3 linked regions of the Homo sapiens genome follow. The protein of the gene in region 2 interacts with the protein of the main gene of each other region in a pairwise test. Each region holds a gene or a part of one and is shown on either strand. Other genes may lie near its edges. The genes, in order: NCK1, CHN2 and NCK2.

Evidence for each region.
Region 1: the proteins of CHN2 (region 2) and NCK1 interact in binary tests that used the Homo sapiens proteins (3 or more experiments, as listed by UniProt).
Region 3: the proteins of CHN2 (region 2) and NCK2 interact in binary tests that used the Homo sapiens proteins (3 or more experiments, as listed by UniProt).

The regions. Positions count from the first base shown.
Region 1 is NC_000003.12:136,924,694-136,928,346, forward strand, and holds part of NCK1 (SH2/SH3 adapter protein NCK1), read left to right. Parts: intron 1-3,290; 5' UTR 3,291-3,308; coding exon 3,309-3,534; intron 3,535-3,653. UniProt on the Homo sapiens protein: Adapter protein which associates with tyrosine-phosphorylated growth factor receptors, such as KDR and PDGFRB, or their cellular substrates. Maintains low levels of EIF2S1 phosphorylation by promoting its dephosphorylation by PP1.
Region 2 is NC_000007.14:29,201,152-29,204,804, forward strand, and holds part of CHN2 (beta-chimaerin), read left to right. Parts: intron 1-3,653.
Region 3 is NC_000002.12:105,880,807-105,884,459, forward strand, and holds part of NCK2 (cytoplasmic protein NCK2), read left to right. Parts: intron 1-521; coding exon 522-1,243; intron 1,244-3,653. UniProt on the Homo sapiens protein: Adapter protein which associates with tyrosine-phosphorylated growth factor receptors or their cellular substrates. Maintains low levels of EIF2S1 phosphorylation by promoting its dephosphorylation by PP1.

The sequences.
Region 1 (3,653 bases), on a different chromosome or scaffold from region 2:
GTGAGTAGAGGTTCTATGTTTCACCACACTGCCATTAGGCAGGAGGAGGGGAGGTCCATGGCTTAACCCATTTGTGCCTAGTGTTCCATTATTGGAACGCTAAGCTTGTGAGAGTTATTTATATCATGCTCAAGGTCGTCACCAAGGTCTGATTTTTCACACAAGAAATTGCAACCTCCGGCATATATGGGTTAAAAAAGGGAAAAGGTCAGGAGCCCTTGATTTGTTCATTTTTGAGGGGTATGGGTTTTTAATCTGTTAGTGCTTAATGAAATCATGGGATTCCAGTTCCCCCACCAAAAATTAGGGGGATAGCTGAACCACAAGGCATAATATTGATAAAATTGGGTGATAGGTATAGGATTCATTATACTATTCTCTTCTGTAAATGTTGAAAAGTGCCATAATTATAAAACTTAAAAGCATTATATAAATTTTTAGTTATTATACCAGTAATGTAGTAGAATGCTATTTTTGTACATTCTGGGGAGGACTAGATAATATTGGTAATACTTTTGTCACCCTGATAGGTAAAGTGTGGTATTTCAGTTTAGTTTTCATTTCTTTAATTATAAAGATATTCAGGATCTTTTGAATACTTTTTGACTATTTGTGTTTTCTCTTTCAGTTTTTATTTTAATTAAACTTTTTATTTTGAGATCATTATAGATCCACATGCAATTCTGAGAAACTTTAGAACTTATTGCGAGATCCAGTGTATGCTTTCCTCCAGTGGCAATACATCTGGCAGAAGTATAGTACAATATCACAATAATATTACAAAATTTCTTCATATTGCCCTTTTATAGTCATACTTACTTCCCTCCTGTTCCTGCTGCCCCGTTAACCCTGGCAACTACTAATCTGTTTCTAATTTCCATATTTTGTCATTTTGAGAGTGTTATATAAATGGAGTCATATAGTTAACCTTTGAGATTGGCTTTTTTCACTGAGCAGTTATAATTCCCTGGAGATTCATCCAGGTCGTTTTGTGCATCAATTGTTCTTTTTGGTATGAACGTACCAGTTTGTTTAATTATTTGCCTGTTGAAGGACATCTGGGTGGTTTCCGGTTTTTGACTGTTAGAAATAAAGTTGCTGTTAACATTCATGTAAAATGTGAACATAAATTTTCATTTCTCTGGGATAAATACCCAGGGGTGCAGTTGCTAGCTTGTATGGTAGTTGCATGTTTAGTTTTATGAGAAACTGTCAGACAATTTTGCGGAGTATCTGTACCATTTTACATTCTCATCAGCAGTATACGTGTGATCCAATTTCAACTTACCCTTGTCAGCATTTGGTATTACCACTCTTAGCCATTCTGACAAGCGTATGTAGTGACATCTCAGTGTGGTTTTAATTTGCATTTCTTTAATAGCTAATGATGAATACCTTTTCATCTGCTTATTTGCCATCTGTAAATCTTCAGTGAATGCCTCTTCATGTTTTTTTGCTCATTTTCTAGTTGGATTTGTTTTTCTAATGTTTCTTTAACTTTTCTAACTGCTTAAGATAGATACTCAGTTCATTAATTTATTTTTAGCTCTTTTTAAAATTTTATTTTAAATTTTATTATTATTATTATTATTATTTTTTGATACAGAGTCTCGCTCTGCGGCCCAGGCTGGAGTGCAGTGGCGCGATCTCGGCTCACTGCAAGCCCCGCCTCCCGGGTTCAAGCCATTCTCCTGCCTCAGCGTCCCAAGTAGCTGGGACTACAGGCACCCGCCACCACGCCTGTCTAATTTTTTTGTATTTTTAGTAGAGACAGGGTTTTACCGTGTTAGCCAGGATGGTCTCGATCTCCTGAACTTGTGATTCACCCGCCTCAGCCTCCTGAAGTGCTGGGATTACAGGCATGAGCCACCGCGCCCGGCCACTCTTTTTGTTTTTTAATGTTACTATTTAAAACTAAAAATCTGTCTATATACACTCCTCTTGCTACATCCCACAGAGTTCGATGTATAGTTTTTAAAATTATTTACTTCTAAGTATTTTCAAAATTCAATATGATTTCTTCTTAGATTCATTAGTTTTTAGAAGTTTCCAAACGTGGTATTTCAAAAGTTATCTTTTTGTTATGGTTGTTGGAGAATATGGTTGTAGGATATCAGTTACGTGAACATTGAGACATTCTTTATGGCCTGGCATTTGATTGCTTTTTGTATGTGTTTCATTTGTTTTCTATTTGGAAGCAATATTCTGTATATGTCTATTAAATCAGACTTGCTGGTTGTGATATGAGTTCTTCTCTAGCCTTAATAATGTTTGTATTTATTTATTTATTTTTTTGAGACCAAGTCTGGCTGTGTCACCCAGGCCTGGAGTGCAGTGGCACGATCTTGGCTAACTGCAACCTCCGCCTCCCAGGTTCAAGGGATTCTCCTGCCTCAGCCTCCTGAGTAGCTGGGATTCCAAGTGTGCGCCACCATACCTAGCTAATTTTTGTATTTTTAGTAGAGATGGGGTTTCACCATGTTGGCCAGGCTGGTCTTGCATTCCTGACCTCAGGTGATCCACCAGCCTCGGCCTCCCGAAGTGCTGGGATTACAGGTGTGTGCCACCAGGCCTGGCCGTTTTTATTTCTTTGTTTTGTTACTCTGATAATATGTTAAAAATTGTCCTCTGTGGTAATGGGTTTGTCAAGATCTCCTTGTGGTTCTGTCAACATATTTTGAAACTATCTTGTTACTAGGTACATAGAAGTTTAGATATTGTAATTGAGTAGAACATTTTTCATTGGGTAGTGAACTTTATTGCTAGTAATGGTTTTTGCCCTTTAAGTTTTGTTTGATACTAATAGAGCAACACCAGTCTCTTTATTGATTGGTTGATTGATTGATTGAGACAGATTCTCCCTCTGTCGCCAGGCTGGAGTGCAGTGGTGCGATATCGGCTCACTGCAACCTTCGCCTCCCAGGTTCAAGCTATTCCCATGCCTCAGCCTCCTGAGTAGCTGGGACTACGGGTGTGCACCATCACGCCCAGCTAATTTTTGTATTTTAGTACAGATGGGGTTTCACCATGTTGGCCAAGCTGGTCTCGAACTCAACCTCAAGTGATCTGCCTGCCTTGGCCTCCCAAAGTGCTGGGATTACAGGCATGAGCCACTGCGCACGGCCATACAGTCACAGTCTCTTTAAATTACTATTTGCCTCATGTATTTTTTTCCATATTTTTTACTTTTCATCTTTATGTCTTTAGATTTTTAGGTGTGTCTCTTTTGAAAAGCATGTGAACTAATACTACCTCAACCTTACATAAAAATATTTTCCATGTGTTTACAGTGCTGAAGCTGCTGAAAGATGGCAGAAGAAGTGGTGGTAGTAGCCAAATTTGATTATGTGGCCCAACAAGAACAAGAGTTGGACATCAAGAAGAATGAGAGATTATGGCTTCTGGATGATTCTAAGTCCTGGTGGCGAGTTCGAAATTCCATGAATAAAACAGGTTTTGTGCCTTCTAACTATGTGGAAAGGAAAAACAGTGCTCGGAAAGCATCTATTGTGAAAAACCTAAAGGATACCTTAGGTAAGATATTTTTTAAAAGAAAAGCAACTTTGTTTTAAATGAAACCTGCAACTTAGTTCTTTGTACATAATTCTGGCAGCAGTGTGCATAATTGACTTGAAAAGGCAAGGGCTAGGTAA
Region 2 (3,653 bases):
AATCTCCTAAGAAATAAGAGCTGGACTGACTAGACTGAGAGCAAGGAGGAACCTTGGTAGTTGTTTCACAGATTCCAACATTGTATAAGAAAATCAGAGCCCAAGGAACTCAGAAACTGTCTCATGCCACTCAGTTACTTGACAGCAGAGCTAGAGCTGGAACTGTCATCTAGGACCCAAGCTCCTGTGACATTAATGCTCCCCCCACCCACTTCCTGGCTCATCCTAAAGAGTAGCATCATCCTTAGAGAATTTCTTGTAGACTTTTTTTTTTTTCTCTCTGGCCTCATAGAGGCTGCTCTATTTAATTACTTAATACTTTCAAAAAAGAAGTCATAAAGCGCTTTATATTTTAAATGGGCCTCAGATCTCCAGGCTGTTGTACCCATAAAGGCACAAAGATTTAAGTGGCTTAGGTCTGCCCTGTGTATAGCTGTGTTGTCCAGTATGGTAACCATTAGTCACATGTGGCTATTTAAATTTAAGTGTAAAAATATTCAGTTCCTCAGTTACCCTAGGCATCTTTCTAGTGCTCAATAGCACACATGGCCAGTGGCTACCATATTGGACTACACAGACACAAAACATTTTTATCATTTTTTACAGGAAATTCTCTAAGACAGAGACAAAACTAATGTAAAATCAACAAGCTAAAAAGAGAAAATCTGATCCAGAGCGCTCCCATTGCTGTGTGTGCTGCTTGTGCTGTTTAGGTTATCTTTTACTAATTTTGCAAATTGACTTTTTAAAAAAGTAATTTCTTTATGACCCCGAGGGAAACTGTGGAATGACAGCTGGAGGATGATATTGGGGAGGGTAATTGAAAATGTTTATAAACTCTGTAGTCCTGAGGTATGATTCAAGCTTTATTTAAAAAGTGGTTTGTTGTTTCCCTAATGGCAACTCAATTTCTTTTTCAAATAAACCCACAGTGAGTTCTGATTTCACCCTCAAAGAGGAAAAAGTGCCCATGTTCAAAAAGTTTGGATCTTACCATTGAATCTCCTTTAAAGACATCGTAAGGAAAACTGTGAATGTGTGGACTGAGGTTGCTAGTGGCATATACAAGCCGTGTTATTTAAAAGAGATTTTCTACCAACCTGGCCATCAGCAGCTAGCTAGAAGGATTTTTACTTCTACAAAAAGCCCACATCAGGGCAAAGCAAATGCATTGGTTTTTAGAAAATAAAGTTAGCTTTTGGAATTTTCAGCACATTTAATTGGGGGGAAATGCATGCAAATAAGATGCAGGAATATGACAGTTTCTAAGAAAAGGAAACAGTTCTCCTTGAACTTCTGTTACCATCCTCAAGTGCAACAAAATGGGAAGGTGGAAGGTGTCTTTAAAGTGTCAAGTTAACTGTCAAGAAAGAGGTGAATGTTGAGGCCATTGGATTCAGAAACTATAATAACCAAAAGACTGTGACATGGTGGCTTATTATTTATTGACATAACTTAGATCATTGATTTAGGGCAATATGAATCACAGAAGCACTTGGGTGATAACCTTATGCAATTCTTTTCTCATCGGAGGCCCAGTTCCTGGATTTTATCGGGCCCCATCATTGCCCTCTGCACCCTCAGTACTGGCTGGGTATTGTCCTTTTCAAGGAAGTGAAACCTAGCGCTTCCTTATTACTTCACATAATGCCATATTAGCAATGTGAAATGCTTTTTCTTACATGATGTTGCTTCCATGAAATAAGCCCAAGAGACTGTTGGGACAGCAAAGAAATGGGAAGCAGGGAGCGTGGCTGTTGCAGTAGATCTCCTGCAGCATGTGTCAGAGGCTGGGGTGTGCCATTGACCTCTAAGGGCCTGATTCTCAAGACCTAGACCTGCACAGTCCAGTGTGACAGCCACATGTGGTTACTGAGCCGTTGAAACATGGCTAGTCTGAATTGAGATGTGCTACAAGTGTAAAATTCACACTAGAGTTCAAACGCTTAGTACAAAGCCAAAAAATATAAAATATCTGACTCATAACCTTTGAAATATTGAATATATGTTTAGGTGATAATATTTTGGATCTAGGCCTGGCACGGTGGCTCACGCCTGTAATCCCAGCACTTTGGGAGGCCAAGGCGGGTGGATCACCTGAGGTCAGGAGTTTGAGATCAGCCTGACCATCATGGTGAAACCTGGTCTCTACTAAAAATACAAAAAGTAGCTGGGCATGGTGGCGCATACCTGTAATCCCAGCTATTCAGGAGGCTGAGGCACAAGAATCGCTTGAATCCGGGAGAAAGAGGTTGTAGTGAGCAGAGATTGCGCCATTGCATTCCAGCCTGGGCAACATGAGTGAAACTCCGTCTCAAAAAAAAAAAAAAAAAAAAAAAAAGGATCTATTAAGCTAAATATAATATATTTACAAAATTAATTTTACCTGTTTTTTAAAAATGTGTTTAAGGTAACTACTAGAATATTTGAAGTTACATGCGTGGCTTACATTATATTTGTATTGGACAGCTGTGGTCTGGATGACTCCAGTGAGAATGTTCTAACCTTGATCGCAGAATCTGCCATACAAAACCTGCTGATGCACTGCTCAGTGGCTCCTGTAGCCCTGTCTACTTATCCTCCATTCACCAAGGCAGAAACTTACCAAGGCAACTCAGCCCTGATTCTCAGGTCCCTGTTTGGTTTTAGTCCCAGACATTGAGAGATGTCCTTAATTTTTCTGAATCTTTATAGTGACTTTCAAGTGAAGTTCTATAAAGAGGAACAGGTTGGGACATTTGTCACATTCTTGTTTAGACAGATTTTGTGTTTTGTTTTGTTTGGGCTTCAGTTTAATTCTAGACTTCATGTATTTTTGTTAGATTTATGTATACGCCTCCTTCCAAAGAAAGCCTGCAATGCTATGAAGTTGGAAAGAGAAGCTGAGGAAACAAAGCACACGTTTTTCTCTCTCTCTGTGTGTGTGTGTGTGTGTGTGTGTGTGTGTGTGTGTGTGTGTGTGTGTAGAAAACTCTTGCCTCATAGCCTTTGTACCGTGATGTCCTGCCATGGATAAGTATGTGGGTTTACATACACATCCACACATATCTGTATTTCTGTATGTGTGTGTATATATGTATACACAGAAAGTGGAAGTGGATTAGGTTCCAATTATTTCCAGTCAAATTTATATCGTATATAAGTTAATATCAAGGGAAATGAAAAGTCAGTTCTAGCATTACTTTTAGTAATGAAATAATTCACTTGGGATTATGCTAATGATATGTAGATATTAATACACATAATTTGGCTGCCTAATATTGATTTAAGTTGCTCATTCAAATTCTCTTTATTACAAAAAAATAACCATTTTGTTTTACAGTGCTTGTCCTCAGAGACAGTGAGATCCAGTAAACCATACTTATTTGGTAAATAATACTATTTTTGCTGATTTTCATATACACAGAGAGCACTATTCTCTTTCAGTAGGTACCCTTTGAGTTGTTAATTTCTGGTTGGGGTCCTGGTTAGCTCTAGCCAAATATCCTCTCTGGATCTGCCTCATGATCAATGCCTAGGGTTGAAGGTACTCCCGGTGACCAGGGCACAGAAGTTTTTGTTCTCTGTGATGTTAATATGCCCTAGGGTTGAACTTTGGTCTCAGGAGAGCCCGAGTCCTATGCTTGCTTTAAGCAGCCAAACTAATCCACATG
Region 3 (3,653 bases), on a different chromosome or scaffold from region 2:
ACTCTGTTGCACAGGCTGGAGTGCAGTGGAGCGATCATGGCTCACTGCAGTCTCAACTCTGGCTCAAGCCATCCTCCCACCTCAGCCTCTCCAGTAGCTGGGGCCACAGATGTGCACCACAGGTGGCTAATTTTTTTTTTTTTTTTTTTTTTTTTTTTTTTTGCAGACACGGTCTCGCTATGTTGCTTAGGCTGGTCTCAGACTCCTGGCCTCAAGCAATCTTCCCGCCTGGGCCTCTCAAAGGCTGGGATTCCAGGCGTGAGCCACTGTGCTGGCCCTGTGACATGTTTTTATGGATAAAATAGATCAATTTAATTCTCAACTTTAAGTAACTTCGCAACTACAGGAGGCAGCTGCCAGCAACCGTATTTTTCTCATGGTAATTACAGTTTGTAAGCACTGTCCATGTGTCGTCCCCTTGTATTTAACCGCCAGAGAAACTGCGTGGAAATCCCGGTAGGCTAGGGAGTGTGGTGGTGCCCAAGTGCCCTGCGCCACTGAGCCTTGCTGTGTCTCCACAGGCCTCGGCAAGACGCGCAGGAAGACCAGCGCGCGGGATGCGTCCCCCACGCCCAGCACGGACGCCGAGTACCCCGCCAATGGCAGCGGCGCCGACCGCATCTACGACCTCAACATCCCGGCCTTCGTCAAGTTCGCCTATGTGGCCGAGCGGGAGGATGAGTTGTCCCTGGTGAAGGGGTCGCGCGTCACCGTCATGGAGAAGTGCAGCGACGGTTGGTGGCGGGGCAGCTACAACGGGCAGATCGGCTGGTTCCCCTCCAACTACGTCTTGGAGGAGGTGGACGAGGCGGCTGCGGAGTCCCCAAGCTTCCTGAGCCTGCGCAAGGGCGCCTCGCTGAGCAATGGCCAGGGCTCCCGCGTGCTGCATGTGGTCCAGACGCTGTACCCCTTCAGCTCAGTCACCGAGGAGGAGCTCAACTTCGAGAAGGGGGAGACCATGGAGGTGATTGAGAAGCCGGAGAACGACCCCGAGTGGTGGAAATGCAAAAATGCCCGGGGCCAGGTGGGCCTCGTCCCCAAAAACTACGTGGTGGTCCTCAGTGACGGGCCTGCCCTGCACCCTGCGCACGCCCCACAGATAAGCTACACCGGGCCCTCGTCCAGCGGGCGCTTCGCGGGCAGAGAGTGGTACTACGGGAACGTGACGCGGCACCAGGCCGAGTGCGCCCTCAACGAGCGGGGCGTGGAGGGCGACTTCCTCATTAGGGACAGCGAGTCCTCGGTAAGTGCGCTGCGCCCACAGCTCCGGCTGCAGGCAGTAAATGCGCCTTGCGCGGTGGGTCTGTGTGCCGCGCCCTTTTCACATTGTGTGAGTACACTAGAAAGAGCGGGAGACGCAGATGAATGCAATTTAGTATAATGTTTGCTACTCCGTGATTTACTTGCATCTGTTTTGGGGATAGTGGGTGTCCATTTCTGGAGGTGGGAGATTAACTAAAAAGATGTTTTTAGCTCACAGAGGTGGTTCTGCTTCTCTCCCAAGATTCCCCCTCTTGTATTTCACAGGCTCAAACATCATTTTCTCTCCTGGTTGCCCATTCTGTGTACGTAGAAGGCCCGAGTGATTTACTTTGTTTCTATTCGGTCTGTGTCCCAGAGAAAGCATTCTTTGCAAGACTGGTGGCTGGTTTCTGACACCTCCTTTTGTTGTTTGCTTGCTTTCTCTTTGTAAACCATATAATCCCAAGGTCATTGCCACGGCAGGCAGCGCCACTGAGTTCATCTCTCAAAAGCTTTTAAAGCACTTACGAGATAAATTGAAAAGAAAACAGGGGTTCTTGGGAGAGATGAGTTTTGTTTGTGTGCAGTGAGTCGGAGATATGAGGCCACTCGACTGGGGCAGCAGACCCAGTTCAGCGGTGGGCAGGCTGGGGGCGGTGAGTTTCAGGCATGGGGTCAAGCCTGCATCCCAGAAGGCAGGCTTTTCGTGTGTGAAGGAAATACTCGACCAGTTTTGCAAACGTCTTTCCGAATACACCTTCTACAATCGAGAGACTTCCAAAACAAGCATTTAGGAGATAGAGTTTAATGTATTTGAATTGTATTGGTTCTAGGAGGCTTCAATTTCATTTTTAAATGCACGCTATAAGACTAGTAAGTATGTACTACCTGCTGCCACTGCTGTCCTCTGAAAAGATTACTGGCACAATGAATAAGTGCTCATTCAAGGGTCCTGTTGACTGATCAGAGAGGCATTCAAAGCCCTCCAGAGAGAGGCGACTGGGATGTGCTCTCTTTGAGGACGGAGCATCGTGGTGGTGGAAACTGGACTCCTTTATGGTGTCATCAATTTTGCGGAGCCTTACATGTGCTTGGACGGGAATGCCAGGCTGAAAGCTAACTTCATCTGAAATCTGAACTCTGAGATTTATCAAGTCACCAGAGTTTATCATTCCTGGCAAGACATCACATTGAATTGTTCTCACATGACGAGAGCTCTGTGCACCACTTCTTTTAGATCGTGTTTGAAGCCTTAAGCAAATTAAGGACAGCAGCGCTTTTAACTCAATCGAGCAGAAACTTAGAGAAAGCGCTGGAAAACCAATTACAATATTAAGTGCTTGGTCCAGAGTCCTTAAGGGCTAAGTATAATGCACAAAATATGATCTTGGCTTAAAATTTTTTGAGTTTGAGGAGACTTCTCAGAAGGAAGTCCTGCAGTGTGGAGACATTGGTCCCAGTCATTATTCTTTCTGCCTAAGATTTGGGGAAAAGAGGAAAGACTTTAGAGGGTAGATGAAAAAGGTGTTCTCCGGGGTTGCTGGCCTTAGGGAGGACCTATGGCTTTTCTGTGGAACATGCACAGGTGGTCATTGCTGTCTGAATTCAGGGACCAAGTCCCTTTGGATAAGGAGGGATGCATGCATTGTCTGGGTTTCATCTCAGAACTCTGCACCCCACTGTCTCAGTTGTCTTATATTGTTAGAGAATGAGCTAACTTTTTCTAAAGAACTAAAGCACGAATTGTTTGTATTTCCTTTTAACAGTTTTTTAATGGGGGCCTTTCAGGGTTTTTTGCATTCTCTCCTAACTTAGAAAGTCAAGGAACAACATATATGATTCTAGGAATATAGGGCGGAAAGAGCTTTACTGGGACTTGCATCGGCTCTGCACACATAGCAGCACCGTCTTTGTCTGAGGTTCCACGTGGCCTGATGCTGTGCAGGGCAGCTTGTCCTGATGGATCTTGCCGTGACACGGGCCATTTTCAGCTGTTAGTGTGCATGCCTTGTTCCATGGGGATTCTGCAAGAGCCCTGAGGTGTGTGTGTGGCTTCTTTTCTCCTGACAGCAGAACCATGCCAGGTTTGCTGTATTTCCTGTTCATAACCAAGGCGTTCTCAGCTGTCATCTGTGACTACCAGGGACCTGTCCTGGTGGACAAGTGGACAAGTCCTTTGCTTGTTTTTTTCCCACCATCCACTGCCTCCCCCCGTCCCCATGTGTTTTCCTGCTCATTTTGGCATTTCTCAGGTTAGAGCTGGCTTTCGCAGCCACCACTAGGCCACCAAGAGCCCTTAGGTTCATGATCTGACATAATTCCTTCGCAGCATGCCAGGATGGAAAGGTTTCTGAGGGGTTCAGCCTCCCTGCAGGACTCAGTCAGGCATCTTTATTTAATTTCCTTTTTTT